3 separate regions of the Homo sapiens genome follow, and regions 2 and 3 are each linked to region 1. Evidence: fine-mapped expression QTL. A gene starts in region 1. Each other region holds a variant in brackets. All regions are shown on one strand. Distances are between the middles of the regions. Region 1 holds the start of HSDL2-AS1 (HSDL2 antisense RNA 1). Region 2 overlaps HSDL2 (hydroxysteroid dehydrogenase like 2). Region 3 has its middle 15 kb from the start of HSDL2.

Region 1 (10,199 bases):
AGTCGTAGTAGGACACAAAGATGTGGATTTCAGGAGAAAAGCCCCGACTAGATATTAGATTCAGGAATCATCAGACATGCGTGAAAAGAACAAATAGTGCATAACTTACCATGAGAGCAGCAAGACCAATAGCTGAAAAAAAAAAAGCACTAAAAGAAACAAGTCCTCAGAACTCAGAAGAAAATAACAGCATTAGCACTTCCACTGAATTTGGCCACAATAATATTCTCCAGTATTCCAAAACAACTATTAAGAATTTTGGCCAGGCACAGTGGCTCAGGCCTGTAATCCCAGCACTTTGGGAGGCCCAGATAGGAGGATATCATGAGCCCAGGAGTTCAAGACCAATCTGGGACACACAGGCCTCATCTCTACAAAAAAAAAAAAAAAAAAAAGTGAGCTGGGCTCTGGGTGTGCACCTGTGATCCCAGCTACTCAGAAGGCTGAGGTGAGAGGACTGCTTGAGCTCAGGAGGTCGAGGCTGCAGTGAGCTGTGATCACGTTAGTGCGCTCCATCCTGGGCAACAGAAAAAGATCCTGTCTCAAACAAACAAAAAAAGGATTTTGTACTTTAAGTCATTAAAAATAAAGCATTTAAAAACAATGAATATGAAGAGTGAAAAACAAAAAGCCTTTAGCTACTTTATTTTTAATGACTATATATAGAGTTGATCATATTGCTATGTATTGGGGCCTGGGATTCAAGTGAAAAATTGCCAACAAAATCCCACATGTGGAGTGAGGTATGTATGTACATATGTAGGTAGGTAGGTATACATGCATGAAAGGCAGTAGGTAGAGGGATGGACTGTGTTATAGGCTGAACTGTATTCCTCTCAAATTCATCTGTTCACATCCTAAACCCTGGTACCTCAGAATGTGACTTATAGGGGAAGTAAGGCCTGGAATAGAGGTAATTAAGGTAAAATGAAGTCATATGTGTGTGCCCTAATCCAATGTAAGTGATGTTCTTAAGAGGAAATTAGGACACACACATACACAGAGGGAAGACCAAGTGAAGCCACCTTAGGAAGACAGCCATCCATCAGCCAAGAGAGGGGCCTTAGAAGAACCTAACCCTGCCAACACTTTGAGCTTATACTTCTAGCCTCCAGAATTGTCAGAAAATAAATTTTTGTTGTTTAAGACAACCAATCTGTGATTCTTTGTTATGGCAGCCCTAACAAATTAATACAAGCTGAGAAGAGGAAGTAGTCCTAGCTGGTTAAGAATTCACACATATTGTCAACTCCGTCCCAGAAATATGAAGTCCTATAACAGAAAAAAGGATAGAGCTTTTGATATATGGTGATTATGCCTTAAATCATGCAAGGAAAATATTTTTAAAATAATAAGTATTTCCAGAGGAAAATATAAGAAAAAACTGAAGGGACAGAATATTTGCAATTAAAAAAGGACAGAAAAGGTTAAAGCAGTATCAGTTTTGAAGAAAACCAAGAATAAAAAGAGAAGCCAACCAAGAAGTATCCTATGCATGAAATGAAAGTTAACCAAAGAGTAAATGAATCATCTAAAAACAATCCAGAGAAGCAAGGGAAAGCAATGGAAGCAACTTTGGATAATTATTTAGAATTAAAAAGAGTTATGTGTATGTTAAGTTCAGCTAATGAAATCCTTGATGATTAACAAACAAAAAACATTTTCAGGCATCAAGTGAAAATATATTTCCAGTAGGTTTTAATGGAATTTTGGTTCTTTGCAGGTTTCTTAAGGAAAAAAAAAACAAAAAAAACAAAAAAAAAAACCAGCTAATAATTACTAGCCATTCCATACATATTACTTTTTGTCCTATCTCTGGAGCTAAAGAGGCCATAGATTTCCAGAGGAGAGTAAGGTGAAGGAGAAAGCTATTCTCTAACTTGCAGCAACCAAGGGGGGAGCTACTCCCTGGTGCTAGGTTGGCCAAAGTTCATGCAGAGAAGAAAAAAAGCTAGAGTAGAAATTCAGCATTTTATGGTAAGATTTTTAATGTTTTTAAATATTGCTTCAACGTTTTAACGTCTTCTTAAACTTTTTTAAAGTTATGGCTGGACGTGGTGGTTCACACCTATAATCCTAGCACTTTGGGAGGCCAAGGCAGGAAGATCATTTGAGTCCAGGAGTTCAAGACCAGCCTGGGCAACACCGCAAGACCCCATCGCTACAAAAAATAAGAAAAATTAGCTAAGTGTGATGGCACGTGCCTGTAGTCCCAGCTACTTGGGAGGTTGAGATGTGATCCTTTGGGCCCAGGAGTTTGAAGAGGCAGTAAGCTATGGTTGCACCACTGTATTCCAGCGTGGGTGACAGAGTGCGACTGTGTCTCTAAAAAACATAATGTTATATCTCACATCAAAGTTGTATAATTTCTTTTGATACATAATGTTACTTCCTTTCAGTATAAGAATATCACTGTTGTCCTAGACCAAGATTCTTTGCTTTCCATATTATTTTCAAGTGTAATAACATGTTTCTGAAATACATCTTCTTTGTCACTAGAGCCATTAGCATTACCACTATGAACACTAACGGTGAAAAAGCTCTCCAACTGTTTAAGTGTAAGACTTTGCAAAACAAACTTGAATACGGCTGCATAATTTGCCTTTCTCCAGAAAAGCCTATTAAACTTTGTTGGCATTGGATACAAAATAAAATTCAAAAATTTGCATTTTCAGTACTTTTCGTTTCTTGACCTTTATTTGAATTTGAGACTAAGCTTTACCAAACAACAGAATTTACACAGTAACTAGCCAACCACAGTCCTCATTATGGAATCTATGCAGTGCATTTGTTACCTAGGAAACGGACCAGAGCACAGGCAGAGTGCAATTTCAGTCTAGCAAAAGAATTCTCCAATCATGCTAGTAAATAAAGTCCATAAATCAACTAATCAGAAGCAAAGTCAAGAAGTATCACGTAAGAGTTAAGCTCAATGGAAACTTTTTTTAAAGGAAAAAAAGAAACCTGTGGGGCTTCCTCAGGCAACTATGTAGATCTCTTAAGTAAATATTATGAGCAGGTTTCTTTACAAACACAAACTGTCAGAAAATAAACTGTTCAAAATAAATGGCTTCTCTCCAATCTTCAGCTTCTCTATTTTTGACAGTACTTAAGAGAAAAAGCTTCTTTAGAGCCAGCCTCATACATCTGGTACCAGAATATTAATCCAAGAATGAAATCTGCATTTTCAGCAAGCAGCATGGTGTTGGTGCTGTTGTTAAACAATGCAGGATGATGATAAAAGCTGGAATGAGAGGTCACTGTCCACACCTCTCACAGCCGGACCTGCTTCCCCACCAGGCTACAAAAAAATGTCAAAAAGAAAGACTTGAAAGTCACAGATCTATTACAAAGAATAAAATTGTTACTTTTCAGCTTTCCATTTATTGCTAATGAAAACACTAGTCATTTGAGCATTCCAGTTAACATAAAGTGGCCATTTTAGGCTTCTTGTAATGATACTACATTGATAACCAATAAACAGGAAAATGCTAGAAAAGTCCATGGATTTTAAAGCCTATCAAATTTAACTGTGGACGGCTTAATGTTGTTTTAAAAAGAGAAGGTGGTAAATGTCAGCTATATTTAAAAATCCAGTTTTACACAAATTCAAATTTTCTGGAAGCAGCACTTATTTGTCAAAATAAATGAAAAAAATTTCAAACATGAAAAATGAAAAATAATTTATATGCTTTCCTCAACACCAACTTACCAGAAAGGAAATCAGCTGAAAATATGTAAGGTTCTCTGGAATGCTTCTGATCACACTAAAATATTATTGCTAATTACACAAAAAACAAAAAATTCTTATCTACCTATCAGTCAAAAAAAAAAAAACACAAAAACATAAACAAAACTAGGTGTTATCTTTCAGCCAGCCCACATAAAGACTACATTGATGATCTCAGAAAACAGGCACAACTACAACTTTGCCAAAACAATTCTCAGTACAGGCCACACTCGATGCTTAGCTACACAGTGACTCTTTGTTAAATCTTATCACTACCACTGACAGCCTTGTAAATATATAAACAAGCAATTCAATCGTTAGCTTATCTTTTTTAAATATTTTAAAGAGCTAAGGAAGAGTACGTATATCTAAGTGCTGAAATTCTGAGAGTGGTCTAGAACTCCATTCCTGGATTCACGATAAAGCCTGATCAAATTTCAATACCTCTTCTCTTTGGGCTATTACTAGGAATGGAGAGGGACAAGGAACGCTAGTCAAGGGCCTACCAGAGCCACATACTGAGCTGTGCTTCTGTGCAGAATTTAAATTCATTTACCTAATGCAGACTGGAAGTCAAAGCAGAAACTAGTAAAATTTTATCAACTAAAAAGGATTGGCTTGATCACTGCTAGGTTTTAAGTAATGTGTGTACAAATCTACGCTCCAGGCATTTACAAAATTAGGCATGCAATAATATTAATCTGTTTAACTGGGACAAGAATCTAGATAAATTTTTCTCCTAGAAAAAAGCACTATTTTAAGCATACTAAACTTTTTATAATGACAAAAATCAGTTTGTCTTTAAAAAAGTGCATTAAATTGTACACTGTTTACTAATTTTCAAACCTTAATGAAAATTTAAATACATAATTTTCCACGTTTTTCCTTCAAGTTTAGATGATAATGCTTTTTGTTTTTTTAGGAAAACCTCTATTTTTTACATATGACTGTCCATATAATTGTATGCATGGCCCCCAAAACTGCTTCTTCGTTTTTTTAATCTCCTGGGTAACTGTCAGACTTAACTTTGTCAATATAAATTCTCACAGGGTGGGCAAAAAAGAGTTTCCAGAACGGAGCAGTAGATTGAGATTGATACAGGCATAAATCCATACCTGCGTATTAAAAATCTGAATCTGTAAAATTAATTTTCTGGGTGCTTATTCAACCTCATTTATTATTTGAGTATCTACAATACACAGCAACCGTTCATGAAGAAACTTAGCTAGCTAATCAAATAAGACAATTCAGAAACATCACCCTACAGTATTTTTCAAAACACTGTATCCATATCCATGCACAACCCAATCGTTGGGTTATATACGTGGAATAAAATAGTAAAGGCACAATCCTAGAGGGGAAACTCAATTCTGACATTCATGGTCTCATGGGTAGGGAAAGATCTCATATCTTAAATCAGCAGAAATAAAGGCTTCAGCCTGAAGGGAAAGCTAGATCATTGTTTATTGCACTCCAATTTAACCTCCACCATGGAAGCTGTCACTACCTGACTGGCTTGTTAGCTGTTTATTTCGTCGGGAGAGGATTCCGTCTTGCGAATCCTAACGAGTTCGGGAAAAAACAAAACTTTACTCCTAAACTTCAAAACACACACACACACACACACACACACACGCACACACACTAAATACATATAATTGTAAAAATCACAGCCACGTTCATTTTTTTTAAAGTCCCAATCTAAAACCTTAAAGAAAAAAAAAGACTTGAAGGAACCAAAAACATTCTTTGATTTTGGTTTGACGTTGTTCAGTCCAACCTCCTCCTACCCAGGGGAATACATTTCTCGATATATTTGATAACAAACACAAATCACTGTGCGCAGCCTCAGATGGGGGTGGGGGGGCGGAAGAGCCTTTTGGAGAAAGCCCTCCTCCGTTAGAAACAATAAATAAGGGAGCGAAGCCATGCACGTTCCTTCACACACGCCCCAAACGCACCTCGGCGAGCCACCCGAGGAGGAAAACTAGTGGGGCAGAGCCCTGAACCACCTCTCTTTCTCCATAAGCATCTCAAGACTTGGAAACTAAGAGGACAGACCTTTTCCTCCTCCTTCCCGCCCTCCTTCCCACCTCCGACAGACCCAAGAGCAGGAGCGGGGGCGCCAGCCCCACGCACTGCGCCTGCAGCCGCCGCTGAGACCCGAGCTGCCGGGCGGCGGGGCGGCCCGGGGCAGGCGGACCGGAGCCGCCACCGGGGGTCTCTGCGCCTCGCACCCCCAAGCCCGGCGCTGCCGACGAGCGGCCGCCCGGGTCCCTGCCCTCGCTCCGGCCTCGCTCCCCCGAGAGGAGACAAAAGGAAGGTTCAGCCGGGTCACCGCGCGGCCGCTGACGGGGAAGCAGAGTCGACCCCGGCGCGGCCGCCCCCCACACAAAGGGGCTCCCCGCCTGGGTCGCGGCGTCGGCGCACTCGTCCCCGCCCCGCGCGCGGGCTCTCACCCACCTGCAGGTGTCTGTGCGTCTGTCCATAGGAACGCGGTCGGCGCGGGGGGGCCTGCGAGAGCCGGGCAGCCCGGGCTGGACGGGACGGGCCGAAGGGGCGCGAGGGCGGGAGGAGAGCGGCCAGAGGGCCGGGCACCAAAGGTAAGTGGAGCGGGGAAGGCGCCCGGCGGGCGGCGGACCGAGGAGCGGGGCGGGGGGCGGGGGCGCCAGCCTGGCTCGGCCGACCGCCGCGCGCCGCTCCGTGCGCCCCGAGCTCCGCGCGCCCGGCTCGGAGCGCGGCGGGCGGGCAGGGGGCGGGGCGCGGGCGGGCCGGGGCGGGGCCGGCGAGCGGGGCGGGGGCTCGGACCCCGGGCTCCAGCCGGCACCGGAAACGCGCCGTGGTCGGCGAGACCCACAGGAAGTGTGTAACGACACCTCCTACGGCACGCACCGAGCTCGCAGTCGTTGCTGCCCCGAGGAGGTGTAGATCGAGCCTCCTGCCGCACACACGTTCGCACGCGGCGGCCGGCGCGCTGGACCGAGAGGTTGGAGCAATCCATCCTCCGCGCGCACGAGCTCAGTCCCTACTGCCCCGACAGGTGTGGAACCCGCCGTCCCCGCTATGGTCCGAGGAAGTGTACAGCACTGCTCCCTACTACACGTCCTGGGCCCGCGGTCCCCGATGCCCCCCGGAGCTCTGTGCACCTCCACTGAAACGCAAGGAGCAGACAGAACCTACACCATCCGTGAGGTGTGTGATTTCCCTTATAACGCATTGAGTAGAGTTACCTCTCCGCCCAGGGATGTGCATTAACACTTTCTACCGAGATACTACGTACAGCCCATAGTCACCGCTGCCCCGTGAAGGTGCCCAACAACCACCTGTAACACACACACCCCTATCCCATCGAGGGAGCGGGGATGCTTAATGATACCTAAAATACACTAAAACTAGGTCCTCCAGCAAACCAGAGACACAAGAACACCACCTACACGACTCAGCACAGCAAAGATGAAGCTGGACTTGCTAGGTGCTACCAGGCTTGGTCCACCTTTATTTTACCTAACACTTTCGTAGTACTTGCTGTGTGCCCACAGTTTGCACTGAGTACTTAGCGAATATTAATTTATTTAATCCTAAGAACTCTACATAGTGGGTGCTATTAACATTGCCATTTTATGATAAGGAAACTGAGGCACAGAGAAATTAAGAAATTTTTTCAACATCACATAGATAGTAGCTAGAGGAGCCTGGATTCATTCCGGACAGTCTGGCTTCAGAGTCTGCTCTTAACTCCCTTTCTATTTACAGCACTGACCATCTCCAAAACAGTAATCATGGTAATAAATAACATTTACACCATATCTGTCAGGCCTTACGTAGTGCCCACATCTTGGCCTCACCTCATCTGTGACAGGCATACCCCAGTCACTTGTACCCTTGGAGTAGGTAAGGGAAGAGAAGAATATTTTTGAGGGAGAGAAAGAAGCTAACTTCTTAGCAAAGGAGAAAATATCCAGGGTCGTCCAGAATCCAAGCAGGTAACTTCATTACCACATCAAGCATGTTCTCTTTTAGGTAGCTTCTGCCAACCCCTCTCCATCTCTAGAGCTGATTCCGGTTGATGTTCTTAACACCTTCCTCTATCAACACTCTTCCAGGTCTAGGCTGAAATTTAAAATCTGTGTAAATGTTGACACAATAATGTTTGTACAAACAAAAAAGACCAAAAATGAAAACCCCCTAGTTAATTGCTGCATATTCTAAAGATGGGATCTTGTGGAGAAATTGGAACTCTTATGCAATGCTGATAGGAATGTAGATGGTACCACCACTATGCAAAACAGTGGGGAAGTTCCTCAAAAAACTAAAACTAGAGCTACCATATGATCCAGCAATCCCACTTCTGGGTAAATATCCAAAAGAATTGAAAGCAGGATATCGAAGAGATATTTGCACATTCATGTTCATTGCAGCACTATTCACAATAGCCAAGAGGTTGAAGCAGCCCAAATGTTCATCAACAGATGAAGAGATGAATGAAAATGTGATATATACATATAATGGAATATTATTCAGCCTTAAAAAGGAAGGAAATCTTATCACAGGCTACAACATAGATGAACCTTGAGGATGTTGTGCCAAGTGCAATAAACCAGTCACAAAAGGACAAATACTGTTATGATTTGACCTATATGAACTATGTAGAGGTATGTAAACTGTGGGATTATGTCAAACTTGTGGAAACAAGACGGTAGAATAGTGGTTGCTAGAGGGTAGAGGGAGGGGAAAATGGTGATATAATGTTTACTGGGTACAGAGTTTCAATTTTGCAAGATGAAAAATTTCTAGAGATGTTACACAATAATGTAAATATAACACCACCGAACTGTACACTTAAAAGTAGTTACAAAGGTAAATTTTAAATTGTTTTTGCCACAATCAACTTCAAAACAAATCTAATTTTATTTGTTTAAAGGATATTTCACTACAATGAATTTTTTTAATGATGCAGGCATCCAACCATGATGAGGTACCTTGTTGAACAAACTAACTCTGCCACTGAGAACGATGAAAGCTGTTTAAAAAAATAAATAAGTCTGTTTAAAACAATTGGAGAGCAACCCTGTCATCCAAGGCTTGAGAGTCCACGAGCCCCCCAGGAAGAAGAGAAATACTCTGAAGTGAGTCCTGCATTCTCAGCCGCTTTTCCTTCTCAGGGCATTGTTGATTTGTGTCTAGGAGTGTAGAAGTCAGAAAGAAGCACCCTAGAGCTTACCGGCAGTCTTACTGGCCTGGAGATACAAAATTTGGAGTCAGGTCTATTAAGGCAGCTAGGACTTGAAAAACGAAGATCCTAGAGAAAGCAATCACAGTAAACCTAGTGGGTTGGCTGAGGGCCATAATCCCGGCACTTTGGGAGGGTGCGGCAGGAGGATTGCTTGAGGCCAGGAGTTTGAGACCACCTTGGGTAGCATAGTGAGACCCTCGTCTCTACAAAAAGAAAAAAAAATTAGCTGGGCATGGTGGCCCACATCTCTAGTTCCAGCTACTCAGGAGGAGTAGAGGAGAAAGAGAGAAGAAAGGAGACCTGTGAGATTATGCTTTTATTAGGTCTATAGGCATTATGCCCTTAAAAAACACATGCACAAAGGAGAGGAACTTATTTCCAAGACTCTGGTGTTAACCATTAGGTTTTTGTTTTGTTCTGTTTTGTTTTGAGACAAGGTCTCCCTCTGTTGCCTAGGCTGGAGTGCAGTGGCGTGATTTCAGCTCACTGCATCCTCTACCTCCCTGCCTCAGTCGATCCTCATGCCTCAGCCTCTTGAGTAGCTGGGACTAGAGATGTGGGCCACTACGCCCAGCTAATTTTTTTTTCTTTTTGTAGAGACAGGGGTCTCACTGTGTTACCCAGGGTGGTCTCAAACTCCTGGCCTCAAACAGTCCTCCTGCCGCACCCTCCCAAAGTGTTGGGATTACAGCCCTCAGTCAACCATTAGGTTTTTTCATGGTCAGCTGAGGGATGTGTTGCGTTTGGGAGTCTATAAGATGAACAAGTGGGCTATATCTCAACGACACTGGGAGGGGAAGTTTGTTTTGTTTTGTTTCTTGAGACAGAGTCTTGCTGTGTTGCCCGGGCTGGAGTGCAGTGGCATGATCTCAGCTCACTGCAGCCTCCTCTGCCTCCCAGATTCAAGCGATTCTCATGCCTCAGCCTCTCGAGTAGCTGGGATTACAGGCACACGCCATCCTTCCCATCTAATTTTTGTATTTTTAGTAGAGGCAAGGTTTCACCATATTTGGCCAGGCTGGTCTTGAACTCCTGAGCTCAAGTGATCCTCCCACCTTGGCCTCCCAAAGTGTGGAATTACAGGTGTGAGCCACCACACCTGGCCAGGAGGGTAAGTTTTAACAAGGCCAAAGGTGACAGCAGGGGGTTGGGTATACAACTGGGTTTCAAAAGACTTAGGCCAGGCCTAAAAATGAATGCCAGAGCAGCAACTATATTAAAAAATTTATGACACTG
Region 2 (10,199 bases), 100 kb after region 1:
ATGGTCAAAGGACACCTGCTGGGTAGGGAAGATCATTTATCCTTGGACGTAACTAAATTAAAGACAATAATTTTTGAAGCCTCTCAAGCTTATTTATCCATTGTGCCTGGAGCTGAGGCGTTAGGTCAGGTGGCAGAAAGTCTTTCTGGACTAAACCCCACGACTTGGATTAAGTCTATTGGGGGCTCCACTGTAGTAAATTTTGGAATCATGTTTCTCTGTTTAATCGACTTTTTAGCGTGCCAGACCAGTCAACGAATCCTGCGTCAAAACCAAGAGAACGAACAAGCCTTCATCGCCATGGCTCATTTATATAAAAAGAAAGGGAGAGATGTTACAGGAAGTCTGGGACCCCCCAATGGAGGGAACAGTTGGAACCATGGCAGAGGAATATAAATTGTGAAGATTTCATGGACATTTATCAGTTCCCAAATAATACTTTTATAATTTCTTATGCCTGTCTTTACTTTAATCTCTTAACCCTGTTATCTTTGTAAGCTGAGGATGTACGTCACCTCAGGACCACTGTGATAATTGTGTTAACTGTACAAATTGATTGTAAAACGTGTGTTTGAACAATATGAAATCAGCACACCTTGAAAAAGAATAGAATAACAGCAATTTTTAGGGAACAAGGGAAGACAACCATAAGGTCTGACTGCCTGTGGGGTCAGGCAAAAAGAGCCATATTTTTCTTCTTGCAGAGAGCCTATAAACGGATGTGCAAGTAGGAGAGATATTGCTAAATTCTTTTCCTAGCAAGGAATATTAATATTAATACCCTGGAAAAGGGATGCATTCCTGGGGGCAGGTCTATCAACGGCCACTCTGGGAATGTCTGTCTTATGCAGTTGAGATAAGGAGTGAGGGAGTGAGATACGCTCTGGTCTCCTGCAGTGCCCTCAGGCTTTCTAGGGTGAGGAAAAACTCTGCCCTGGTAAATTTGTGGTCAACCGGTTCTCTGCTCTCAAACCTGTTTTCTGTTGTTTAAGATGTTTATCAAGACAATACCTGCACCACTGAACATAGACCCTTATCAGTGGTTCTGCTTTTTCCCTTTGTCCTGTTCCCTCAGAAGCATGTGATCTTTGTTAGACCCTTATTAGTAGTCCTGCTTTTCACCCTTTGAAGCATGTGATCTTTGTACCTACTCCCTGTTCTTACACCTCCCCCTCTTTTGAAACTCTTAATAAAAACTTTCTGGTCTGAATCTCAGGCAGGCATCACAGTCCTACTGATATGTGATGTCACCCCTGGAGGCCCAGCTGTAAAATTCCTCTCTTTGTGCTGTCTCTATTTCTCAGCTGGCCGACACTTAAGGAAAATAGAAAGAACCTATGTTGAAATACTTGGGGCAGGTTCCCCCAATACCTTCTTTTGCAAAGTTCCTATTAATTGGTTTTGCCCATTTTTCTTTTCTTTTCTTTTTTTTTTTTGAGACAGAGTTTTGCTCTTGTCGCCCAGGCTGCAGCTCACTGCAACCTCCACCTCCTGGGTTCAAGTGATTCTCGTGCGTCAGCCTCCCAAGTAGCTGGGATTACAGGCGTGTGCCACTACACCCAGCTGATTTTGTATTTTTAGTAGAGACAGGGTTTCTCCATTTTGGTTGGGCTGGTCTTGAACTCCTGACCTCAGGTGATCCACCTGCCTCCGCCTCCCAAAGTGCTGGGATTACAGGCATGAGCCACCAAGCCTGGCTGGTTTTGCCCGTTTTTCTATAAATAAGGTTAACTTTTTTCTTATTGACTCATACAAGTCTATAAATTACATACATTTCAGTATCTTTTCATTTGTGGCTTGCTTTTTCACTATTTTTATAGTGTCTTTTGATTAGCAGAAATTCTTTATCATTAGAGATTGGGTCTTCTGTATCACCCAGGCTGAAGTGCAGTGTCTGAATCACAACTCAGTATAACCTCCTATTCCTGGGATCACAATTCTCCTGTCTCAGCCTCCCAAGTACCTGGAACTACGGGTGCATGCCAACATGCCTGGTTAATTTAATTTTTTTATTTTTTGGGGGGGGACAGGGTCTTGCTATGTCGCCCAGGCTCATCTTTAATTTCTGGCCTCAAGCAATTCTCCTGCCTCAGCCTCCCAAAGCACTGGGATTATAGAAAATTATTATTATTATTATTATTATTTTTGAGATGGAGTCTTACTCTGTCACCCAGACTGAAGTGTAGTGGCGTGATCTTGGCTCACTGCAACCTCTGTCTCCTGGGTTCAAGTGATTCTCCTGCCTCAGCCTCCTAAATAGTTGGGATTACAGGCATGTGCCACCATGCCTGGCTAATTTTTGTATTTTTAGTAGAGACAGGGTTTCACCATGTTGGCCAGGCTGGTCTTGAACTCCTGACCTCAAGTGATCTGCCCACCTTGGCCTCCCAAAGTGATGGGATTACAGACATGAGTCACTGCGTCCAGCCTAGAAAATTTGTTAAAGAATTTATAATTCTTTTCTTTTATGGCCAGGGCTTTGGGAATCTTAAGAAATTCTTTTTTTCCTGTAAGTGGATTAATTTGTATTTCAAAAGTTTTATGGTTTACCCTTTAAAGTTTGGTCTTGAGGCCAGGTGTGGTAGCTCAGACCTATAATCCCAGTACTTTGGGAGGCCGTGATGGGAGGATCGATTGAGCCCAGGAGTTCAAGACTAGCCTGGGCAACATAGTGAGACCCTGTCTCTACAAAAAATAAAAAAATTAGCCCAGTGTATTGGTGTGCACCTGTAGTCCCAACTACTCAGGAGGCTGAGGTGAAGGATTGCTTGAGCCCAGGAGGTCGAGGCTGCAGTGAGCCATGATCATGTCACTGCACTCCAGCTTGGTGACAGAGCGAGACCCTGTCTCTAAATAGATAAATTAATAAGTTTGGTCTTTAATCTACCTGGAATTAATTTTTGTGTATGAACTGAAGTAAGGGACTAATACATTTTTTCCCTACATAGATAACCAACTGTCCAAGTCTGAAATGCCCATCTTTCCCACTGCTCTTCAATATCAGCTCTGTCATAAACTGAATGTCCATAAATATATATATTATCTGCTTTTGGACTCTCTATTCTGTACCACTAATCTACATGATCACACTGCCTTAATTAAAACAGCTTTATCAGTCTTAATAACTGATAAGGCAAATGATTCCAATTTATTCTTCTTCAAGAGTTTCTTGTCTATATTTGGACCTTTAATTTTCCACATATATTTTATTTTATTTTTTACTTTATTTATTTATTTATTTATTTATTTATTTATTTTGAGACAGAGTCTCACTCTGTTGCCCAGGCTGGAGTGTAGGGGCGTGATCTCGGCTCACTGCAACCTCAGCCTCCTGGGTTCAAGTGATTCTCCTGCCTCAGCCTCCTGAGTACCTGGGACTACAGGTATGCGCCACCATGACTGGCTATTTTTTGTATTTTTAGTAGAGACAGGGTTTTGCCATGTTGGCTAGGCTGGTCTGGAATACCTGAGCTCAAGTGATCCACCGGCCTCGGCTTCCCAAAGTGCTGGGATTACAGGCATAAGCCACCACGCCCGGCCCACATATATTTTAGAATCTCATTATCTAACTGGTCAAGTGAAATCAGTTGAGATTTTGACAGAAATTACATTAAGTCTATAATTCAAAGTGGAAAGAATTGACATTTTTGTGACAGTGAGTGTTCTAATCCATGAACATGGTATAATTCCATTTATTTAGGTCTTTCTAATGTATTTCATTATGATATAATTTCCTACAGAAAGGTATTATACATCTTTTGTTGGCTTTATTCCTAGGTACTCCATTGTTTTTAACTTTTTCCAACTTTTTATTTGTAAATAATTCAAATTTAAAGTTGCAAGAATAATAGTACAAAAAAAATATTCACATATCCTTCACCCAGATTCATGTATTGTTAATATTTTACCCCAATGATTTAGCATTTGTGCTCATTTTCTCTCCTTCTCCCTTTCTCCTTCTCTATATCTTATTTTCTCCAAACCACTTAAGAGTGATTTGAGGCCAGGTGCAGTGGCTCATGCCTATAATCCCAGCAATTTGGGAGACCAAGACGGGGATCACTTGAGCCCAGAAGTCGAAACCAGCCAGGGCAACATAGTGAGACCCTGTCTCTACAAAATTAAAAAATTAGCCATGTGTGGCAGTGTGTGCCTGTAGTCCCAGCTACTCGGGAGGCTCAGTCAGGAAGACTGTTTGATCCCAAAGGTTGAGGCTGCAGTGAGCCATGATTACACCACTGTACTCTAGCCTGGGAAACAGAGACTGACCCTGTCTCAAAAAGAAAAAAAAAAAAAGTGATCTGAATACATCAAAGCTTGGTCTCTCATGTATCTACTTTCACAGTATTTTAATTTTGTCAATTGACTCAATAATGCCCTTTAGAGCATTTTTTCCTTCCACTACAGGACCCGGTTTAGGGTAGTGCTTTTAATTGACATATCTCTTTAGTCTCCGTTAATCTAGAACATTTTTGCAGCCTCTTCTGTCTTTTATGATATTGACCTTTTGAAAAATACAGTCTGCACTCCTTTTTTAAAAAATATAATGATCCTTACTTTTTTTTTTCCAAGATGGAGTCACACTCAGTCGCCCAGGTTAGAGTGCAGTGGCACTATCTCAGCTCACTGCAACCTCCACCTCCCAGGTTCAAGCAATTCTCCTGCCTCAGCCTCCTGAGTAGCTGGGATTACAGGCATGCACCACCACACCTGGCTAATTTTTTTTTGTATTTTTAGCAGTGACAGGGTTTCACCATGGTCTTGGACTCCTGACCTTGTGATCCACCCACCTAGGTTCCCAAAGTGCTAGGATTACAGGTGTAAGCCACCACACCTGGCGTATTTTTTTTTTTTTTTTTTTTGAGATGGAGTCTAGCTCTGTCTCCCAGGCTGGAGTGCAGTGGCGCGATCTCGGCTCACTACAACCTCTGCCTCCCACGTTCAAGTGATTCTCCTGCGTCAGCCTCCCGAGTAGCTGGGATTACAGGCACGCACCACAACGCCCAGCTAATTTTTCTATTTTTAGTAGAGACGGGATTTCACCATGTTGGTCAGGCTGGTCTTGAACTCCTGACCTCGTGATCTGCCCGCCTCGGCCTCCCAAAGTGCTGGGGTTACAGGCATGAGCCACTGTGCCTGGGTTTTTTTTTGTTTGTTTTTTTCTGAGACAGGCTCTTGCCCTGTCACCCAGGCTGAAGTACAGTGGTGCAATCACAGCTCACTGCAGCCTTGACCTCCTGGACTCAAGCAAATCTCCCACCTCAGCCTCCTGAGTAGCTGGGACTACAGGCACACATCATCAAGCCCAGCTAATTTTTTTATTTTTTGTGGAGACAGGGTCTCACCATGTTGGCCAGCCTGGTCTTGAATGCTTGGGCTCAAGCGATTCTCCTGCCTTGGTCTTGCAAAGTGCTGGGATTACAAGCATGAGCCACCACCCCTGGCTGAATGCTCATTTTGGATTCAACTGATATTTCTTCATGATTAGATTCCGGTTATGCATTTCCAACCAGAACATGTGATACTGTATTTTCCTCAGTATATCCCA[T/C]AGGGCAGCATACAACGTCCATCCGTACTCACTTTATAATGTCAATTTTTATCATCTAACCATAGTGTTACCATATTTCTCCACTGCACAGTTACTATTCCTTCCCTTGCAACCAATAAACAATCAGTGCAAAAACGAAGACTCTTTTTATTATGGAATTTTCAAATACATTTAAAAAACCAGAAAAGAGTATAATAAGCTTCCATGTTTATTCAACTACTAAATTGTGAAAGCAATCATCAGAAAACAAATCCTAGGTAGGCATGGTGGCTCATGCCTATAATCTCAGCACTTTGGGAGGCAGAGGTGGGCAGAACGCTTTAGCCCTGGAGTTTGAGACCAGCCTGGGCAACATAGAGAAACCCCATCTCTACTAAAAAATACAAAAATTAGCCAGGCATGTGGTACGCACCCATAGTCCCAGCTACTCAGGAAGCTGAGGTTGGAGGATCACCTGAGCCCATGACACGGAGGTTGCAGTGAGCTGATTTCACACCACTGCACTCCAGCCTGAACCACAGAGTGAGACCCTGTTTCAAAAAAAAAAAAAAGAAAAGAAACCAAATCCCAGAGGTTATATACTTTCACCTATGAATACTTCAGTATTTACTTTTCTAACAGATAAAAACTTTTAAAATACCAATGTCATTATTATACCCAAGAAAATTAACAATAATTTCTCAATATCACTCAATATCTGTCTATGTTCAAACTTTTATAACTATCTCAGTTTTTCTTATGGTTGGCCTGATCAAATCAGGATCCAATAAGGACCTCACATTACATCTGGCTGTTATACCTTAAGAGTTTCTCTTTTAATCACTGCCAGCTTCCCTTCCACTCTTTATGCCATTTATTTGCTGAAGAATATACATCATATGTCCTGTAGTGGAGTCCATATCTGGGATTTTGAACTTCTCATTTTTATTGACATGTACTATATACTTCTTGCAGATTTTTGCTCGTGTAGAAATCTAACTTACTATTATTTTTTGAGAGAGTCTCCCTTTGTCGCCCAGGCTGGTGTGCAATGGCACAATCACAGATTACTGGAGACTTGACCTTCCCAGCTCAACTAATCCTCCCACTAAGCCTCCTGAATAGCTAGGATCACGGGTGTGCATCACCACGCTTGGTTAATTTTTATTTTTTTTTGGTAGAGACAGAGTCTTACTGTGCTGCCCAGGGTGGTCTTGAACTCCTGGGCTCAAGCGATTCTCCCACCTTGGCCTCTCAAAATGCTGGGATTACAGGCATGAGCCACCATGCCAAGCTCAAAATTATTTTTATTTGTTGACTTTTATATATAGCAATTTTCTTAAACTTTTATTAATTATAATAATTCAGTTATACATTATTTTGGTTTTCTGTGCAGGATAATATCATCGGCAAATAACGACAGCATTATTTATTTCATTATAATCCAAATACTTTTTCTTCCTGTCTTACACCTTATTTACTAAAGGTTACACTTCAGTCAGAAGAAAAGTGTTTCCAGATGGAAGGTCTGAAATTCAAGAAAATAGGAAAATCAAAGATATTGGTAAATAAGTACAGAAATCTTGTTTAGAAAGAGTACAATAATAATAAAATAATACTTGTGGGGTTAAAAAAGAGAATTAAAATATATTATTACAAACCAGCCTGGGCAACATAGTGAGACCCCACCTTTACCAAAAAAATATTTTTTTAATTAGTTGAGGCCTAGGCATGGTGGTTCATGCCTGTAATCACAACACTTTGGGAGGCTGAGGTGGGTGGATTGCTTGGGCCCAAGTTTGAGACCAGCCTAGGCAACATAGCAAGACCATGTTACTATTTAAAAAAAAAAAATTAAATTAAAAAAATTGGCCGGGCATGGTGCCTAACACCTGTAATCCCAGCTCTTTGGGAGGCCGAGGTGGGCAGATCACCTGAAGTCAGCTCAAGACCAGCCTGGCCAACATGGTGAAACCCCGTCTCTACTAAAAAATACAAAAATTGGCCAGGCACAGTGGCTTACGCCTGTAATCCGAGCACTTTGGGAGGCTGAGGTGGGCGGATCACAAGGTCAGGAGTTTGAGACCAGCCTGACCAACATGGTGAAACTCCATCTCTACTAAAAATACAAAAAAAAAAAAATCGGCCAGGCGTGGTGGCAGGTGCCTGTAATCTCAGCTACTCGGGAGGCTGAAGCAGAATTGCTTGAACCCTGGAAGTGGAGGCTGCAGTGAGCTGAGATCGCGCCACTGCACTCCAGCCTGGGCGACAGTGCAAGATTCTGTCAAAAAAAAAAAAAATTAGCCAGGTGTGGTGGTGCATGCCTGTAATTCCAGCTACTCTGGACGCTGAGGCAGGAGAATCGCTTGAACCCAAGAGGCAGAGGTTGCAGTGAGCCTAGATCGCGCCACTGCACTCCATCCTGGGCGACAGAGCAAGACTCCATCTCAAAAAAATAAATAAATAAATAAAACTTAAAAACTTTTAAAAAAGAAGTCTGATCTCTTACCTATAGGTGACCAGCTTCATTAATTTCTGGCCTATCATTTTTGTACTTTTTTCAAACATAAGCAAACATATATATATATAAAACACTCTATGTATGTGAAAAACTATCCCTTCCTTTTTTCATACAAAAGGTAGTATACATAAAATATTAAAGTGGTTCTGTTGTTGTTGTTGTTGTGTTTTTCTTTTGACAGTCTTGCACAAGTTTTTCACTACTGCAAGCAAGGCTGTAGACAGGTCGTGGTGACCTAGCCTGCAGAAATGAACTCCAGACACCCCTGAGCAAGGTTAAAAGACGAAAAACAATTTCCTTTACTGTCTCTCTTGTACTATTAGTTATGACTATGTTTGCCAATGCTTGTATTTAGTAAGATTTGCAAAGTTCCTGTTTTTCTTTCGATGCAGCTGCTAGGCCACTAGCTATGCAAGGCCACAGGTTAGTGCCAGGTCAGCAGTTATGCTATGGATTACGTGATTTGTCACTGTAAAATTTACTGCCTTTGTTTTGATCTTGTATGCTGGCCTATATAAGCTAAACTCTGTTTTTGTTCAAGGCTCAGCTTTTTGGATGTGAATCCACTGAGCCGGTGAGTACCTTAAATAAACATCCTCCTGTCTTCCCAATATCGGTCTCTCTGGTCCTCAGTTTACCACAACAGCCTCAACAGCTCATGGCAGCGTCAACCTCCTGGGCTCAAGTGATTCACCTCAGCTTCCCAAGTAGCTGGGACCACAGGCTAAAGTGATTTTTAATGTAAGTATTTACAAGAAAATGTCCCAACTATTGCTGTAAAAAAAAGCCATATCTCTTTGCTTTGAGTATAGCTTGATTGATTCCCAGTAGGAGAAAGGGCATTTTCTTCCTCACTCAGAGTCTCTGGCATTGGCAGAAAAAAAAGCAAACATAACCCTGATCTGTGCCAGTAAGAAGTCCTCCAGCTCCAAAGCATTAGTACCAGAATATAGAAGGCAAGAGCACTTCAAAGAAGGCTCCAAATTTCTTAGTATTATTGATAGATGGCTAAAACTTGCTGATGAAGAGCTAACTTACAGTTTAATTTACTAAAATTCTCTGGTACCCCAAAATCAGGTAAAAGTACTGAAATTTTTAGTAAAAGGAAGAACAACTGTTTCCAAAAAACTATACAAATTATTCTAAACTTCATTTGGAAAAATAAATACCCAAGTATAACCAGGAAAATTCTGAAAAATAATCCAAATGTGGTGGGAACTAGCTTTCCCACATATTAAAACATTTTGTAAAACTAGAGCAATTAAAATAGTTTGGGCTGGGTAGAGTGGCTCACATCTGTAATCCTAGCACTTCGGGGGCTGAGGCAGGAGGATCACTTGAGCCCAGGAGTTTGAGACCAGCCTGGGCAACAAAGTGAGACTCCTCTACAAAAAAATTTTTTAAAAATAGCCAGGCATTATGGCGCATGTCTATAGTCCCACCTAATTGGGAAGATGAGCTGGGAGGACTGCTTAACCCCAGGAGATCAAGGCTGCAGTGAACTATGATGGTGCCAATGCACCCCAGCCTGGGTGACAGAGCGAGGCCCTGTCTCAATTAATTAATTAAGTAAACAGTCTGGTACTGGTACATGAATAGAGACTAAAGTAGCAGAGCAGAAAGTCCAGAAACAGAGCGCTATATGTGCAAGAATTTAATATACAACAGAGGTAGAATTTCGAGCAGAAGAGAAAAGATTAACTCTTAGGTCAATGCTGCTAGGACAAATGAGCAGCCATCTGAAGAAAAATCAAGTGGGCTTCCTAACTCACTTCCTGAAAGAAATCTCAGGGGGATAAAAAAATCTGACTATAAAAAATATAGACAATACAAATATATTTGAAAAATACAAAAATATAAGACCATAAAAATATCAGAAGAAAACTAATTATAAAAAGATCTGCCCAGGCACGGTGGCTCACACCTGTAATCCCAGCATGTTGGGATGCCGAGTCAGGAGGATTACTTGAGGTCAGGAGTTTGAGACCAGCCTGGCCAACATGGTGAAACTCCATCTCTACTAAAATTACAAAAATTAGCCGGCATGGTGGTGTGCGCCTGTAATCCCAGCTACTTGTGAGGCTAAGGCAGGAGAACCACTTAAACCTGGGAGGCAGAGGTTGCAGTGAAACGAGATCGCACCACTGCACT
Region 3 (10,199 bases), 120 kb after region 1:
CAGGCATGCATGACCACACCACTATTTTTTTGTATTTCTGGTGGAGATAGGGTTTTGCCATGTTGTCCAGGCTGGTCTTGAACTCCTGAGCTCAAGTAATCCACCTGCCTCAGCCTCCCAAAGTGCTGGGATTACAGGCATGAGCCATTGCACCTGGCCCACACTTCCATATTTTAAAACTTACTATAAGGTTACAGTAATCAAAAGTGGGAGCAGTGACATCAGCAAGATGGTAGAAGAGGATTTTCCAGCATTTGTTCCCTTGCAGAAACATTGTATTAGTCCATTTTTATACTGCTATTAAGAAACACCTGAGACTGGATCATTTATAAAGAAAAAGAGGTTTAATAAGCTCACAGTTCCACATGGCTAGGGAGGCCTCTCAATCATGGCAGAAGGCAAAGGAGGAGCAAAAGCATGTCTTACATGGTGGCAGGCAAGAGTGTGTGTGCAGGGGAACTGCCTTTTATAAAATCATCAGATCTCATGAGATTTATTCACTATCATGAGAAAAGCATGGGAAAACTGGCCCCTATGATTCAGTTACCTTCACTGGGTCCCTCCCATAATACCATAACACGTGGGTATTATGGGAGCTACAATTTGAGATGAGATTTGGGTGGGGACACAGCCAAACCATATCATTCTGTCCCTGGCCTCTCCCAAATCTCCTGTCCTCGCATTTCAAAACACAATCATGCCTTCCCAACAGTCCCCCAGAGTCTTAACTCATTTCAGCATTAATTCAAAAGTTCATAGTCTGAAGTCTCATCTGAGACAAGGCAAGCCTCTTCCACCTATGAACCTGTAAAATCAAAAGCAAGTTAGTTACTTCCTAGATACAATGTGAGTACAGGCATTCAGTAAATACACCCATTCCAAATGGGAGAAATTGGTCAAAATCAAGGAGCTAAAGGCCCCATGCAAGTCCAAAATCCAGAGGGATAGTCAAATCTTAAAGCTGCAAAATAATCTCCTTTGACTCCGTGTCTCACATCCAGGTCACAGTGATGCAAGTGGTGAGTTCTCATGGTCTTGGGCAGCTCCACCTCCATGGCTTTGCAGGGTACAGACGCCCTCCCAGCTGCTTTCACAGGCTGATGTTGAGTGTCTGTGACTTTTCCAGGTACATGGTGCAAGCTGTCAGTGGGTCTGTCATTCTAGGACCTGGAGGATGGTGGCCCTCTTCTCACAGCTCCACTAAGCAGTATCCCAGTGGGGACTCTGTGTAGGGGTTTCCACCCCAAATTTCCCTTCCACACTGCCCTAGCAGAGGTTCTCCATGAGGGCTCTGCCCCTGCAGCACACCTCTGCTTGGACATCCAGGTGTTTCTATACATCCTGTGAAATCTAGGTGGAGGTTCCCAATCCTTAATTCCTCACCTCTTTGCATCTGCAGGCACAAGACCTCGTGTAAGCCATCAAGGCTTGGGGATTGGACCCTCTGAAGCAATGGCCTGAGCTGTACATTGGCCCCTTTTAGCCATGGCTGGGGCACAGGGCACCAAGCAGCAAGGCCCTGGCCCTGGCCCATGAAACCATTTCTTTCTCCTAGGTCTCCCAGCTTGTGATGGGAGGGACTGCCGTGAAGACCTCTGACATGCCCTGGAGACATTTTCCCCCGTTGTCTTGATAATTGACATTTGGCTCCTCGTTACTTATGCAAATTGGCTAAGTTCACAGAGGTATTTCATCTCCCCTGGCCCAAAGCACTCCCACTAGTGCTGCATACACTCCAATCCATCCCTTTGGGAAAACATCAATTGTCCCCTTATGAAATTATAATGGGAAGGCCCATGTGTATGGGAATGAAAATAACCAATCCAACTTTTCTCAAGGGAGTTATATTGTAATATTGTGAGGGAATCATTTATCACCTTAAAAAAAAAAAGCCAAGATTTGATAAAGAATTCCTTTCACAGTGTGCTCCCTGAAGATAAGGTACCTGGGCTGGGCACGGTGGCTCACACCTGTAATCCCAGCACTTTGGGAGGCCAAGGTGGGTGGATAACTTGAGGTCAGGAGTTCGAGACCAACCTGGCCAACATGGCGAAACCCTGTCTCTACTAAAAATACAAAAATTAGCTGGGTGTGGTGGCGCACGCCTGTAATCCCAGCTACTCAGGAGGCCGAGGCACAAGAATCGCTTAAACCTGGGAGACAAAGGTTGCAGTGAGCCGAGGTTGCACCATTGTACTCCAGCCTGGGCAACAGAATGACGCTCTGTCTCAAAAAATAAAAAATACAAATACAAAAATTAGCCAGGCATGGTGGTGCATGCCTGTAGTCCCAGCTACTAGAGAGGCTGAGGTGGGAGGATTGCTTGAATCCAGGAGGCAGAGTTTGCAGTGAACCAAGATTGTGCCACTGCACTCCAGCCTGGGTGACAGAGTGAGACTTCGTCTCAACAACAACAATGAAAAGAACAAAAAGAAAAAAAAACTGAAGAAAGCCTACAGGAATCATGGGATATCATCAAACAAACTAATATATACATTATGGGAGTTCCAGAAGGAACAGTGAAAGAGAAGGGGGCAGAAAACTTATTTAAAGAAACAATGACAGAAAACTCCCCAAATTGGGAAGGGAAATGAACATCCAAATCCATGAAACCCAAAGAATCCCAAATAGATTAAATATAAAGAGATCTTCACTGAGGCCCATTATAATCAAATCATCAAAGTCAAAGATAGAAAGAATTTTGAAAGCAGCAAGAGAAAAGGAACTCATTACATACAAGGGAACCATCATAAGATTATCATTGCATTTCTCAGTAGAAACCTTGCAGGCCAGGAAACCATGGGAATATATTCAAAATGTTGAAAGATGAAAAAACTTGGCAACTAACAATACTATACCTGACTAAGAATACTATACCTGCCAACTAACAATACTATACTGTTCTGAAGGTCAGTAATGCTGTCCTTCAGAAATAAAGGAGATAAGAACCTAGCCAAAAAACAAAACAAAACAAAAAAACCCAAAACACAAACAAAAAAACCTGTGGGAGTTCATCACCACTACATCTGCTTTACAAGAAATGCTAAAGGGAGTTCTTTGTGTTGAAACAAAAGAATAATAGCTAACAAAATGAAAACATGCAAGTATAACATTCACTGTAAGGGTAAAAATAGTCAAATTCAGAATACTCTAATATAGTAATGGGGGTACATAAATCACTTTTAACTGTAGTCTAAAGTTTTTTTATGTATTAAAATATAGCTATAATAATTTGGTCATGGATAGACAACATACAAATTGTAACATCAATAACATAAAATGTGGGAAGAAAAGTTAAAATGCAAAGTTCTTGTGATGAAAGTTAAGCTAGTGTCAACTTAAAATAGACTGTGATAAGATATTTTATGTTAGGCTCATGGTAACCACAAAGAAAGCAGGGCAGTCAAATCTTAAAGCTCCAAAATGATCACCTTTGACTCCATGTCTCACATCCAGGCCATGCTGATGCAAGAAGTGAGTTCCCACAGTCCTGGGCAGCTCCACCCCTGTGGCTTTACAGGGTATAGCCCCCCTCCTGGCTGCTTTCACAGGCTAGGATTGAGTGTCTGCAGCTTTTCCAGGTGAATGGTGAAAGCTGTCAGTGGATCTATCATTCTGGGGCCTGGAAGACGGTAGCCCTCTTCTCACAGCTCCACTAGGTGGTGCCCCACTAAGGACTGTGTGGAGGCTCTGATTCTACCTTTCCCTTCTGCACTACCCTAGCAGCGGTTCTCCATGAGGGCCCACCCCTGCAGCAAACTTCTGCCTGGGCATCCAAGCATTTCTACGCATCTTTGGAAATCTAGGTGGAGGTTCAGAAACCCCAAATCTTCTGTGAACTTGCAGGCTCACCACCACGTGGAAGCTTCCGAGGATTGGGGTTTGAACCCTCGGAAGCCATGGCCCAAGCTCTATATTGGCCCCTTTCATCCATGGCTGGAGTGGCTGGAAAGCAGGGTGCCAAGTCCCTAGGCTGCACACAGCTTGGGAACACTGGACCCAGTTCATGAAACCATTTTTTCCTCCTGTGATGGGAGGGGCTGCCATGAAGACCTCTGACATGCCCTGGCAACATTTCCCCCATTCTCTTGGGAATTACCATTCA[G/C]CTCCTCATTACTTATGCAATTTTTTTTTTTTGAGACAGAGTCTTACTCTATTGCCCAGGCTGGAGTGCAATGGTGTGTCTTGGCTCACTGCAATCTCCGCTTCCTGGGTTCAAGCAATTATTGTGCCTTAGCCTCCTGAGTAGCTGGGACTACAGGCATGCACCCCCACACCCAGCTAATTTTTGTATTTTTAGTAGAGACTGGGTTTCACCATGTTGGCCAGGCTGGTTTCGAACTCCTGACCTCATGATCCACCCACCTTGGCCTCCCAAAGTGCTGGGATTACAGGCCACTGTGCCCAGCCACTTATGCAAATTTCTGCAGCTGGCTTGAATTTCTCCTCAGAAAATGGGATTTTCTTTTCTATCGCATTGTCACGCTGCAAATTTTCAGAACTCTGCTTCCCTTATAAAATGGAATGCCTGTAACAGCACCCAAGTCACTTTTGCTCCAGTTATCAACAAGTTTCTCATCTCCATCTGAGACCACCTCAGCCTGGATTTCATTATCCATATCATTATCAGCATTTTGATCAAAACTATTCAACAAGTCTCTAGGGAGTTCCAAACTTCTCCACGTTTTCCTGTCTTCTTCTGAGCCCTCCAAACTGTTCCAACCTCTGTCTATTACCGGTTCCAAAGTCACTTCCACATTTTTCGGTATCTTTTCAGCAGCACCCCACACCACTGGTACTAATTTACTGTATTAGTCCATTTTCATGCTGCTGATAAAGACATACCCAAGACTGGACAATTTACAAAAGAAAGGGGTTTAATGGACTTACAGTTCCACATGGCTGGGGAAGCCTCACAGTCATGAAGGAAGGCAAGACGGAGCAAGTCACATCTTACATGGATGGCAGCAGACAAAGCGAAAGAGTGTGTGCAAGGAAACTCCCATTTTTAAAACCATCAGATCTCATGAGACTTATTCACTCTCATGAGAACAGCAAGGGAAAGACCCACCCCCATGATTCAATTATCTCCCACTGGGTCCCTCCCACAACACATGGGAATTATGGGAGCTACAAGATGAGATTTGCCTGGGATCACAGAGCCAAACCATATCAGTGTCCATCAATGGATGAATGGATAAAGAAAATGTGACATATGTATAGATAGATACATACATATATAGATACATAGATAGATAGATAGACATATACAATGAAATACTATTAAGCCTTAAAGAAGAAAGAAATCCTGTCATTTGTGATAACATGGATGAACGTGGAAGACATTATGCTAAGTGATATAAGCCAGCCACAGAAAGGCATGATCTCACTTATGTGTGGAATCTAAAAATGTTGAACACGTAGAAGCAGCAAATAGAAGGGTGGCTGCCAGAGGCTGGGTTGTGGTGGGGGTGGAGGAATGGAGATATGTAGATTACACGGTACTGAAACTGTTAGATAGGGTCAGTAAGTTCTGGAAATCTAATATACAACATAGTGACTTAGTTAGTGGTAATGTATGTAAGTATGCCTTGTTTTATGGAGCTTCACTTTATTGTACTTCACAGATAATGCATTTTTTACAAATTGAATATTTCTGTCAACCCTGTGTCACGCAAGTCAATTGGTGCCATTTTTCCAATAATGTGTCCTCACTTTGTGTCTCTGTCATATTTTCCTAATTCTCACAATATTTCTTTTTTAAATTTCTTAATTTTTTAAAAATAGAGACAGGGTCTTGCCCTGTTGCACAGGCTAGAGTACAGTGGCGTGATCATAGCTCACTGCAGCCTTAGACGCCTAGGCTCAAGCTATCCTTCCACCTCAGCCTCACGAGTAGCTGGTTCTACAGGCTTATAGTTTTTGTAAAGACAGGGTCTTGCTGTGTTGCCCAAGCTGGTCTTGAACTCCTGGCTCAAATGATCCACACACCTCGGTTTCCCAAAGTGCTGGGATTACAGGCATGAGCCATGGTGCCTGGCCCCCTGGTACTTTTCTTTACCAAAATACTTATAAAAGGTTAGTATGCTCTTTTGCTTTTCTTCTGCTTTGCAAATAACTAGGGCTTTTTTTTTGTCTTCTTGAAATTCTCTTATCAAATTAAACTTTTATTGCCTGTTTTTAAAGATCTTGCTACTGTGAGACCCTGTCTCAAAAAAAAAAAAAAAAAAAAAAAAAAAAAGAACTGACCTAGCAAGCCACAGTGACATGGAGGAAAGTTAAATGCATATTACTAAGCGAAAGAAGCCAGTCTGGAAAGGGTACACACTGTATGATTCCAAATATATGACATTCTGAAGAGGCAAAACTATGGAGACAGTAAAAAGGATCAGTGTTTGCCGGTAGTTAGTGAGGAGGGAGGGATCAATAGGCAGAGATCAGAAGATTTTTAGGGCAGTAAAACTATTCTGTATGATACCATAATGTTACAGATATGTCATTATATATTTGTCAAAATTCACAGAAGGTACAACACAGAGTGAACCCTATGGATTTTGGTTGATAATGATATGTCAATGTTGGTTTATTGATTATATCAAATTTACCATACCAACTGGGGCTGTTAATGGTGGAGGAGGGAGTATGTGGAAACTCTCAGTACTTTTTGCTCAATTTTTCTGTGAATCTAGCACTCTTCTAAAAAATCAAGTCTAATAATTACAAAACAAAAGCAAAAACCATGTGGTATTGGCATAGGGATAGACATATAGATCAATTAATAGAATAAATAAACTGATACACTTATGCTCTATTGATTTTCAGCAAGCATACCAAGACTAATAGGTCAAGAATAGCCTTTGTGTGTGTGTGTGTGTGTGTGTGTGTGTGTGTGTGTGTGTGTGACAGTTTTGCTCTGTAGCCCAGGCTGAGGTGCATTGGTGTGTGGATCTTGGCTCACTGCAGCCTCAACCTCCTGGGCTCATGCAGTCGGCCCACTTCAGCCTCCCGAGTAACTGGGACTACAGGCTGGTATTTTTTGTAGAGACAGGTCTCACCATGTTGCCCAGGCTGGGCTTGAACTCCTGGGCTCTAGAGATCTGCCCTCCTCAGATTCCCAAAGTTCTGAGATCACAAGCGTGTGCTACCAAGCCCAGCCCCAGATATTCGTATTAACTAGATATTCTTATTCATAAAAGAATGAGTTTGGACCCACCCCCTGACTCCATCTCAAAAATTATATGAAAATTAATTTTTCACAGTTTTTATGGTTTTATTTCAACACAAAACATGCACATGAGCTGTCTATTCCCTTTCTTTGCTGTGCTGCCTGGCATTGCGACTGGTGACTCTGATGGCCAGCTGGGCTGCCCTTTCCATGATGGCTTTGCAGTTCCAGAGGACACATTGTGAGCTATCTCAGGACAGTAAGATTTTCTGCATGTCAGCAGCCCTTCCAAGTCCTTGACAATGCGTACCAGAAACTTCCAGAAGCCGCTGGGCAGCATGTGCTTTGTGTTTTCATTGCTTCTCTATAACCAATGTTGGGCATCAAGATCTGGCCCTTGAATCTTCTATGAACGCAGTTGTCTCTGGGTTTCCACCGGTTATGCTTAATTTTGACATATTGTTCTGACTGGTGGTGAATGAACTTCTTGCTCCTCTTTTTGATGATCTTGGGCTTCATGAGGGGTCTGATGGTGGCCATGATGGTGAGTAAGAGATGGCTCTAAAAATCAACCCCAAATGGATCAAAGACCTTAAATGTAGGAGCTAAAATTATAAAGCTCTTGAAAGAAAACATAAGGGTAAATCTTCATGACCTTGGATTTGACAATGGATTCTTAAATATGACACCAAAAGCACAAGCCACAGAAGGGAAAAAAAAGAAGATACATTGAACTTCATAAGAATTAAAATAATTAATTTGTGCATCCCAGGACACTATCAAGAAAGTGAAAAGACAACCTAGAGAATGAGAAAAAATACTTATAAATCATATACCTGATAAGGCTCCAGTGTCCAATATATACACAGAATTCTTACAACAGCTACAGAAAAATGAACAACCCAACTAAAAAATGGGCAACGATTTGAATAGATATTTTTTCTTTTCCTTTTGCTAGACAGGGTCTTACTTTGTTGCTCAGGTGCAACCATGGCTCACTGCAGCCTCAACCTCTCCCTCTCAGTTATCCTCCCCTCTCAGCCTCCTGAGTAGCTGAGACTACAGACTCATACTTTTTGTAGAGACAGGGTCATGCCATGTTGCTTAGGCTGGTCTCAAACTCCTGAACTCAAGCAATCCTCCTGCCTCAGCCTCCCAAAGTGCTGGGATTACAGGTGTGAGCCACAATGCCTGTCCCCAAATAGATAATTTTCTAAAGAAGATATACTAATGGCAACAAGCACATGAAAAGATGCTCAATAGCATTACTTAGGGAAATGCAAATCAAAACCACAATGAGATTCCACTGTACACCCACTAGGTTGACTATAATAAAAAAAAGGAAAGTAACAAGTGTCGGATGGGATGTGGAGAAATTAGAACCCTCATACGTTACTGGTGGAAGTATAAAATGGTTCAGTAGCTTTGAAAAACAGTTTGGCAGTCTCTCAGGTTAAACACACTTGCTAGTTCCCGAATGTCCACAGTCAAAAGAGCAATTCCACTTTTTGGTATGTATACCGAAGAGAAATAAAAACATGTTTAGAGTCACCACCAGGTGGCACTGTTATTTTAAAATTCAAAATTGTATAATGCCACAAAATGTTAATTTATTAACAATATTGTGATATAATAATTGACTTGGGTTAAGGCAAAAATAACAAAGTTTTCTATAGCTCTCAAAAAAGGAAAATAAGGTAGAAATTTAAATGTCTTAATGAAAATAATGCTTTGAATCATTAAAACAGGATATGATACTCCAATCCATTTTATATTATTAACGTTTTCAAAATTACCATAAAATGGACAAAGTTATCTTCCCTTGTTTTGTGGCTTCTAAAGTCTATGAAGTTTAGGCTGGGTGCCATGGCTTACACCTGTAATCCCAGCACTTTGGGAGGCCGAGATGGGCAGATCACCTGAGGTCAGGAGTTCAAGACCAGCCTGACCAACATGGTGAAACCCCGAATCTACTAAAAATACAAAAAAATTATCCAGGTATGGTGGTGGAGGCCTGTAATCCCAGCTACTTGGGAGGCTGAGGCAAGAGAATCATTTGAACCCAGGAGGCAGAGGTTTCAGTAAGCCAAGATCTCACCACTGCACTCCAGCCTGGGCAACAGAGTGAGACTCTGTCTCAAAAAAACAAAAAATAAATAAATAAATAAAGTCTATGAAGTTTAATTCTCCAATGTTAAAAAGTAATTTTCAAGTATATAGGAGATTGAAAATGCCTGATCAAATTGAAATATTAAAGGATATGACACTGACAACAACTTTAAGCTTAAGTTATCAAATAAGGACTCTCCTAACCCTGAGCTTGCATAATAATCCATTTTTTAAAGTGTGTAATTTAGTAACCTTCCAATTTCTTGACCACAACCCACAAAAGGAAATAAATTATTTATTCAGACCCAGTACAAAGTTTTTATTCTATTTTATTTGAATCTTGTCTGCCTTGTTAAAAAAAAAAAGTTGATTCTAACCTACTAAATAAGTTTGGTGACTCATTAATGGATCGTAACCTACTGTTAGTCGTATTATAACTTGCCATTGAAATTTTTCCATTTGAGTTTTAAGATGTTTTAGGCTTCTCCAGTGAAAAATAATGTTACAAATTGATGGTCAGAGGCCAACAACAATATAATGTGACTCAGAGCAGATGATTTCAATGGCTTTGAGAGAGTCCCACATCTCTTAAAAATTTCCATTTCCTTTACCCACAAGACAGCTCACCCTGTCTCAGAATCACCTGAGAAATCCTTGTGAGCCAGAAACTGTACCTCATGCCTGTAATCGTAACACTTTAGGAAGCCAAGGTGGGAGGATCACTTGAGCCCAGGAGTATGAGACCAGCCTGGGCAACAGTGACACCCTGATTCTACAAAAAAAAATTTAAAAATTAAGCCAGGTGTGGTGGTGCATGCTTGTAGTCCCAGGTCCTTAGAAGGCTGAGGTGGGAGCACTGCTTGAGCCCAGGAGTTTTAGGCTCCAGTGAGCTGTAAGTGCATCACTGCACTCCAGCCTGGGCAAC

What was found.
Region 2: its variant is fine-mapped to the expression of HSDL2-AS1 in anterior cingulate cortex (GTEx, PIP 0.96).
Region 3: its variant is fine-mapped to the expression of HSDL2-AS1 in prefrontal cortex (GTEx, PIP 0.93).

The regions. Positions count from the first base shown.
Region 1 is chr9:112,483,113-112,493,311 of GRCh38, reverse strand. It overlaps HSDL2-AS1 (HSDL2 antisense RNA 1), which reads left to right and starts at 5,668. Exons shown (of 5, transcript NR_171779.1): 1 at 5,668-6,333; 2 at 6,771-6,922. It overlaps KIAA1958, which reads right to left and starts at 6,485. Exons shown (of 4, transcript NM_133465.4): 1 at 6,194-6,485. RefSeq lists silencers at 5,887-6,376, 6,457-6,516 and an enhancer at 6,947-7,006.
Region 2 is chr9:112,383,124-112,393,322 of GRCh38, reverse strand. The region is part of intron 1 of HSDL2 (hydroxysteroid dehydrogenase like 2); the gene reads right to left. Among named protein-coding and RNA genes, the nearest start is that of HSDL2, 8.1 kb to the right of the region's middle. The variant T/C (reference allele first, on the strand shown) is at 5,549.
Region 3 is chr9:112,360,220-112,370,418 of GRCh38, reverse strand. It overlaps a transcript of PTBP3 not described here and the pseudogene RPL32P22. Among named protein-coding and RNA genes, the nearest start is that of HSDL2, 15 kb to the left of the region's middle. The variant G/C (reference allele first, on the strand shown) is at 4,106.